Linked DNA regions of Homo sapiens. The protein of the gene in region 1 purifies or fractionates together with the protein of each later gene. This does not show direct contact. Each region holds a gene or a part of one and is shown on either strand. Other genes may lie near its edges.

Region 1 (3,815 bases):
ATCTTCCAGGTCTCAGCTGACATGTGAATATTCTGGTACCTATGACCTGAGGGATCAAAATGTGGACAGGGCAGGATCAATTTAATACCAAGGTCAGCCAGAGAAGCTGGTAACCCTCACTGGGCTGGGGTGGTCCCTGGCAGAGGACATAGCACCTGCAGGAATCACCAAGAATTCTAAGAGTAAAGACAGGAACAATAACGCATACAAGAGGGTGGCAAAGAGAGTGTCCAGCAGCCAGAGGAGCTCTGCGGAGAGCCCGAGTCATCAGTAGCCTTCAGAAATCACCTCCACCCACACCAGATATGACTTCCTCCCATTCCCCCTTGCCCAGGTGGGAACTTTCATTCCACCAAGACCCTCAGCTCTATGGTCCCTCCACACCACCCCTGAAATGCAAAATGGAGCTGGCATGAGGAGTCACTCAGCCCCAGGTACTCCAGGAACTCCGCATCTCCAGGCCCTGCACACTGACTCACTGGGGGTGTTTCTTGTAGACGGAACCGTCGACCCCAATAGTAGAGCGCAGCCGCTCCTCGCCTTTGTTCTCCTTGATGCGCTGCAGCACGGCGGCCAGGGTGGCTGCGCACAGGCTGGCGGAGCGTGTGGACACGATCTGGCAGATCCGGTGAGTGGCCACGCAGTCCTCCTGAGTCGGGTCCAGGCCCAACCGCATCAGGACCTCACGGGCCTTCCGGATGCCATCCTTCTCCCTGGGAAACAGAAAGATAGCATGTGGGCCTGTGTCTGACCCACTGTGGCCAGTGTGTGTGTCGGGGGGTGGCAAGGAAGCCCTTTAGTTCCAGCAAATTCACCACCCAGTGGGGACAGAATCCCTCTTCATTGCTTAGTCCACCTGTGCAGGGGCAGGAGGAGGAGGAAGGGGGTGCAAAATATAGCACAGCCACCCTGAGGCTCCTCTCCCAGACACCACACACACACGCACACGCATGTGCGTGCGCACACACACACACACACACACACACAGAGACACACGGAGTTGAGAAACACAAGTATTTCTTATGCATGTGCTATGTAAAAACAAGGCCCTGTTCTTGGTGCTTTACCACCAAGTTGTGTGTGTGAGAGTTTGTGTTACATCTGCTTGTGTTAGGGGAGACAGACAGTGTCTCTGCTGTCAGCCACTCTCAACATGTGAACCCTGCGGTGATGCCCACCTGGTTTCTCTCTCTAAAGCAGTAGGAGTCTATTGCATTTCACCATGGACTTGGCACTGCTTTAGCTTGTGTCTAAAGATGGTTGGTAAGGGGCTAGTGCTATAACCTTAGCACCCTTCTCAAGGGAACTAAATCTTGCATCACCTTGGGGTACTTGCATCACCTTGGGGTATAGCAACAAGTAGGCCCCATTCCTTCAAGAGTTTCCCCTTAAAACAAAGTCATTGGCACTGTTCCACTGCTCCATTTGGCTCCAAAGACACCTCCTCTCCACCATCTGGTCCCTGAAACACCAGGACTTCTTCAATCTACAAGTGGAAATCTCAAGAACAGTAAACGAGGCCCGCCTGACTCTTGGGATATTGTTAACAACAACAAAAATCAAGCCATCCTCACTCTTGCCCCTGCTGGGCTGTGAAAATGCAGGCCCCAGCTCTGCTTATTAGAATTAATTGGGTAGCTATATCTCTGGCCAATTCAAAGACCTAGCTTTCTATTATGAAGCAGGGGTCATGACAGAGTCCTTTTTGAGAATTGCCAATAGGGAATCAGATGTCAGAGCTTCAGGAGAAGGAAAAGGAGGCAGATGCAGCTAAGTCTTTCGGGGGCCCTCTGGGGTCCTCCAGCTTTAAACCCAGTGCAACAGCCCAAGTCCCTGCATATGGAGGCCAACCACCGTTCCCAGTACCATGAGTCACTGGTAGCAATCACAATCGAAATCGACAAGAGTGGAGACTGGTAAGTGAAGTGAAGCCACAGGCCCGCCATGGTCCACGTCATGTGAGACCCTCTTGCAGTCTATACTTGAAGAGTCAAAAGGTACAGCCCCCTCCTCATTCCCCAACTACCCGTCAACTCGTGTGGTGATCCAGCAAATAGAGGGGGCTGGCCAGAAGCTCACCCTTCAATGTCTGAGATGTCTTTGGTCTCAAAGCGACCGGTGTTGAGAAGCTCTGGGCTGAGCTTCCCCCCAAAGAGCAGCTCCTCCTTGGCCATCTTCACCAGGATAAGCCTCACCAGCTCCCCCATGTACATCCCACTGATCATCTTCTCAAACCTGCCGGAAGACACAAACCAAAAACATAAAGTCCCCACTGCCCATGTACTCATAGCTTCCCTGTTGAAGCAAGATGCGCACACGTGCAACTTCACAACTAAGGGTTAATGTGTGCAGCACGGCCCAGGAGTAAGATACGTGGAGAGGTGACGGCTCAGAGGGGCTGGCTTGGGTTGTCCCTGCAGGCTGATGGGCCTTGACCTATGGAGAAGAATAAATGAAACTTAAGCAGCCAAATGAAACACACAGGGAGTATGGAACATTCTGGAACAGCCTGTATTTTAGGTAAAGTTATGCGTAGGGTGGTAATCTTTAAAATTCTTCTCTAGCCAGGAAATCATTTTTAAAATTAATATCTTACATAGCCCAATATTTATTTACAAGAGAAAAAAGGCGATCTGATTAGATATGTAGCACAGGCCTAGAAACTCATCAGCTCATACTGTCCACCCCTGCAAGCCGTTCATGGGCTCCAGAGAAAATGGTGTGAAAACCACCTGGGGCAGGGGATGATGGGGCAACATTATAAAGGCAGGTTGGGATAGAGGAATCTGCACTGGGCTCCGAGCTCTAAATGACAGGTCTCAGGGGTCTGGGAGTGAAACAGGCTTCTAAGCAGGCAGGTGACAAGATGTTTTAGAAAGGCAGGGGACGGCCCCCAAACCAGCAGTGCGGTCCGGTGATTTAATTTTAACACTAGGTGGCACTGTTTTCTTTCATAATTGGTCTTTCTGACTAGAACTGAGAGGAAACCAAGCCCTGGTGATAATTCTTTTTGACAAAAGGCCCATTTCTGGGTGTTTGAGAAAGAACCTGTGTCTTAGAGGAGGCACATGGGCCTGCTGCCACTAACTAGGATGAGCCCCAGCGAGGAGGAGGCCCAGGACTGAGATGTGGAAGGGATTCCAAGGTTACCTTTCCGAGAGGAAACCCAGGCCTCCAGGAAGCAGCCTGCTCAAGACCCAAGGCCGAGTACAGCAGCATCAGGGCTAACTGAGAGCTGGCAAAATTGTGAAGATGACAGCGCGCATTTTAAATGTTAGTGCACCCACACAGGCAGAGCTTCAGGAGAAGGAAACCAGCGTGGATGGGAGCCTGGCTTCAACAGTAAGGAACTCCGTGTTGCTAAGTTTTTATTCTAGTTTTTAAAAACACTTTGTTCCAGTCAACATTTGGAAGATACTTACTTGGAAATATATTAGAGGGGACAAAAATTGTCTGTAGTGACTTCAGGGCTACCATGGATGACAATTTGGTGGGTGTCAAAGGATAAGCCGGGGGTGTGCTGTCATGGTCTGGCTGGCAAATTTGTCTTTTGACATTTGAAAGGGCCTTTAGTTCCTCGGAATGACTTGGGTGTGCCTCATTCATGGAGGCAGGCACTGAGTGACTTTTCAGCTCATAAACCTCTCATCAGCCATGGCAGACACAACCAGTATGATCCTCAGAAATTTCAAGTAAAGGACTCATTTCAACATGTGAAACAAGCTTGTGACTTAGATAAATAAACCATGCTTTGACAAAGCAAGGACTCTCAGGCCGGGCGCGGTGGCTCACGCCTGTAATCCCAGCACTTTGGG
Region 2 (3,815 bases), on another chromosome or scaffold:
CATACAACACCACGCCTGGCTAATTTTGTATTTTTGGTAGAGACGGGGTTTCTCCATGTTGGTCAGGCTGGTCTCGAACTGTCAACCTTAGGTGATCTGCCTGCCTCGGCCTCCTAAAGTGCTGAGATTACAGGTGTGAGCCACCATGCCCGGTCTTTTTTTTTTTTTTAATACAAAAATATTTTTCTCCCATTCTCTTGAGTGTGGGACCGTATTGATGGGTTTGTCTACTGTGTGTCTGAAACCTGCTCGTCCCACCACCACCGACAGCTGAGTGGATTGACCAGTCAGCTTTGCTTTATAGGACATAGGGTCTTGGCATCCTAATGCTTGAGTGAGTAGGACTTCACTTGACACACAGGCATCCACACTAGGTCCTCAGACTGCTGGTCAGTGTCTTTGGAGCAAGGTCCTCCATTCTTCTGTAGCAAACAGAGGGATTCCTGTCCCTTTCAGTGGGGCGTCCAGGGCCACAGCAGTTCCCACATGTGCCCCTGGCCTTGCTCCTGCTCTGCATACCTGCCGACTCCCAACTGGAGCCTATGTAGCTGTGGCTTCTGGATGTCTCCTACCCTATAGGATTTGTCTCCTGTGCCCCTCCTCCTTTTGTCTTCTGCAGATTTGTTGACATCTCATCTGTTCCTGGCCTCCCTCTTCCCCCATTTTCACTGTCTGGGGTTTTTCTCTTCATGCCTATTATGCCTGCAGTTCACAAGAGGTCAGAGAGATGGCTGTCTGTTCCCAGTGTGACATCTTCACCTGGGACCTCTGGAAGCATTTCTTGTCTGGTTTTCTCCCTTGATGATTTGGTTCATTCCCCTGGGTAGGCAGTGTGAGAAGCTTCCCCAAATTTGGAAATTATTATGTTATATAGAGCTGGGTGGGAGAATTATATTTGTTAAGTGAGCTTGTTCTTGTGAAGGCAGGCTGAGGAGCCTTGGGCCCTCTGTGTCGTGTTTCCATTGCACACAAGTTCATGGTTAGACATGATTTGGCCCAACATGTGTCTGGATCATTTCAGGAGTGAGTGGATCTGTTGTTCCATTTGCTCACGTTCCTCATGGTGTTAGAAGGTAGGGAGTGAAGCTCAGTTGCCTATTGTTCAATAGGACTAGCCAAGTAAATACCCTTTTCCGTGGTAAATTCCCCTATGAAAGGTCATGCAAGTGGAACTGCGATCTCATGAGAGGATGCTTCCTTGGAGTCTGCATGTGAACCTGGCAGAGCCGCCTGTGGTTAGCAGAATATCTTCGCTGTGTCCCCCAGTGGGCAGCCTTCTGCCACCTTCTCCCCTCACTGCATGGCTCAGGAACTATCTTTCATTTAGTAACTATCTGATGGGCTGGATGTGGTGGCTCACATGTGTCATCCCAGCACTTTGGGAGGCTGAGGCAGTAGGATCACTTGGGGCCAAGAGTTCGAGACCAGCCTGGGCAACAGCAAGACCCCTGTCTCTACAAAAAATAAAAATAAAATTAGCCAGGCATGGTGGCACGTACCTGTAGTCCCAGTTACTCGGGAGGCTGAGGTGGAGGGATTGCTTCAGCCCAGGAGTTTGATGCAGCAGTGAGCTGGGATCACGCCACTGCACTCCAGCCTGGGCAATGCAGTGAGGCCGTGTCTCTTAAAGAAAAAGAAGAAAAACTGACAGCGGTGACTCCTGCACATCATTTCTCCCATTTCCATTTTTTATTTACGAATATTTAAACTACAGTTAGGTTATGGTATTGTATTTCATTGGAAATACTAAACTCCAGTTTGGAAAATCTATCAGTTTGGGTTGTCTTTTTTTCCAATCATTTTATAAGCGTTTAATGAGCCATCTACCAAATGACATGGAGAGTAGCTTCCAAATTATTTTTATTCCACATACCTATTAGAAAAAAGTTTTAAGTACTTGATCCCAGTGTCTTCTTAATGCATACATTATACAGATACAAAATGTAAATGGAAGTTCTGTTTTATTTCCTCTTCTAATTACTGACCTGTGAACCTCCTGGGGTATGCATACCCTGCTTTGGAGACTGCTGGCTGGAATACATGATATGAAGTAAAAGGAACCCTACTCCCACAGCTGCCAGTCCAGTTCTGGAGACGGACAAGTGGTGGGGCAGGGATAGGTGTTCCTAGGGCGGTGGGGAAGGCCATGGGGCCAGTCTCTGCCTAGGACAGGCTCAGAGGGAGGAGGGTGAGCTGAGGCTTTTAGAGGCTTGGTTTTGTAAAGAACCAAGACAAAATGCAAAACCATGTGCGAGTGTTGGTGGTATATTGGTGAGCATAGCTGCCTTCCAAAACCAAAGGAGTTGGTCTCATACTCTTGGATGAAGACCAGGCTATAGTCAACCAGGCAGTGCAGTGGCTCATGGAAGGAAGAGGTGGTGCTTGTCTCTTGTACAGCAGTCCTGGGGTGAGCAATTCAGGGTGTGCAGCCCCCTCAGCTTTCTTGGTTGCTGTGGTCCAGGGCTGGGCTCCTGCGTCTCCCAGGTAGCCACAAGGGGAGGCAAGGAAGAAATACCACTTGTCTCCTCTGCTCACTTTTTGCTGTGACAATTGGTCTCCGTTAACTGGAGAAGGGAGAAGAAGATTGGGTCACAGCAGCTTCCACCACAGCATTTTACGTTACCAGTTATGCTGAGAAAGATTTTCTGGTGGATTTACTAAATGAGCTGACATCTTCAGGTTGCTCTAGGTATAAATTAGGCTGGTATGGTTTTCTTCACTGAGATGCCTGGTGAGCCTGATGACAGCGCTGTAGTGTGCAGTCAGGTACCTTGGAAACCATCACCACTCCCACCGTACAGCACACCAGTGGTCACCCTGATAGGAGAGATGATTTTCTTCTGCTGTGTCCCCAGGTCTCAGTGGCCCTTAGCAGCAGCTCCATTCGTGTGGCCATGCTGGAGGAAAATGGGGAGCGCGTCCTCATGGAAGGGAAGCTCACCCACAAGATCAACACTGAGAGTTCTCTCTGGAGTCTCGAGCCCGGGAAGTGCGTTTTGGTAAGTTTGGGCACCTGTGTGTAGGGCTCCCAGGTGGACTTCAAACCTGCAGTGATGCCCCTTTTGACCAACAAGCCTATTTACACTTAAGCAGTGAGGTTGTTAATTTCAGCTGCTGGGGCAGATGGGTTTTCCTGAGCATTTTCCATACTGCTCAGAGATCGTCTCTGTGGGCACTTGAGCTTTGGCCCTTTGAGGTCTTGGTCATTCCCAAGAGCTCCACTGTTCTTACATCTAAGGCAAAAACAAGTAAATTGAAAATGAAAAGCTAGGTTGAATTTTTACAGATGCTACTCTGGAGGGTACAGAGTTAATAAATTCAGAGAATCAGGCTCATTGACCAACTGGCTGTCCTTAGCCAGCTGCTGGTTAGGCATAGCTAAGAGTTCAGGACAGTGAGATTAAGGTGTGACTCCAAATGAACAGCTCACATGTTACCAGTTAGCAGACTCGCTCACAAATTGGGCTGCACGCCTGGGCCAGATCTGTTGGTGGCTCAGCTCCTTCTCCCCTGTGAAAGCTTTGAACCTTGTCAGTGGTGGCTCTGTGCTGGTGCCCAAGTGGAGGTCACCTACAGATAAATTGAGGCACAACATGTTCTGAACTAACTTGTTTCCTTTTTTTCTCCTACTGGGGTGTTTACAGGGCATGGTAAAAGGAATAAAGGTGAAAAGAAAAATATAATGTCTGGACAAAAGTCTTTAGAATTTTATACAGATATATTCTTCATATGTGCAAAGTATGCAATAAAGGTATCTGTTTTGGTTTCTATAAGACATGCTTGGCAGGCTTCTGCCTGGGCTTCCCTGGCCAGTG

The links.
Region 2: the proteins of HK2 (region 1) and NUDCD3 fractionate together in Homo sapiens (co-fractionation; one large-scale study listed by BioGRID). This does not show direct contact.

Annotation. Positions count from the first base shown.
Region 1 is NC_000002.12:74,875,586-74,879,400, reverse strand, and holds part of HK2 (hexokinase-2), read right to left. Parts: intron 2,236-3,815; coding exon 2,080-2,235; intron 714-2,079; coding exon 480-713; intron 1-479. UniProt on the Homo sapiens protein: Catalyzes the phosphorylation of hexose, such as D-glucose and D-fructose, to hexose 6-phosphate (D-glucose 6-phosphate and D-fructose 6-phosphate, respectively).
Region 2 is NC_000007.14:44,403,624-44,407,438, reverse strand, and holds part of NUDCD3 (nudC domain-containing protein 3), read left to right. Parts: intron 1-2,855; coding exon 2,856-2,999; intron 3,000-3,815.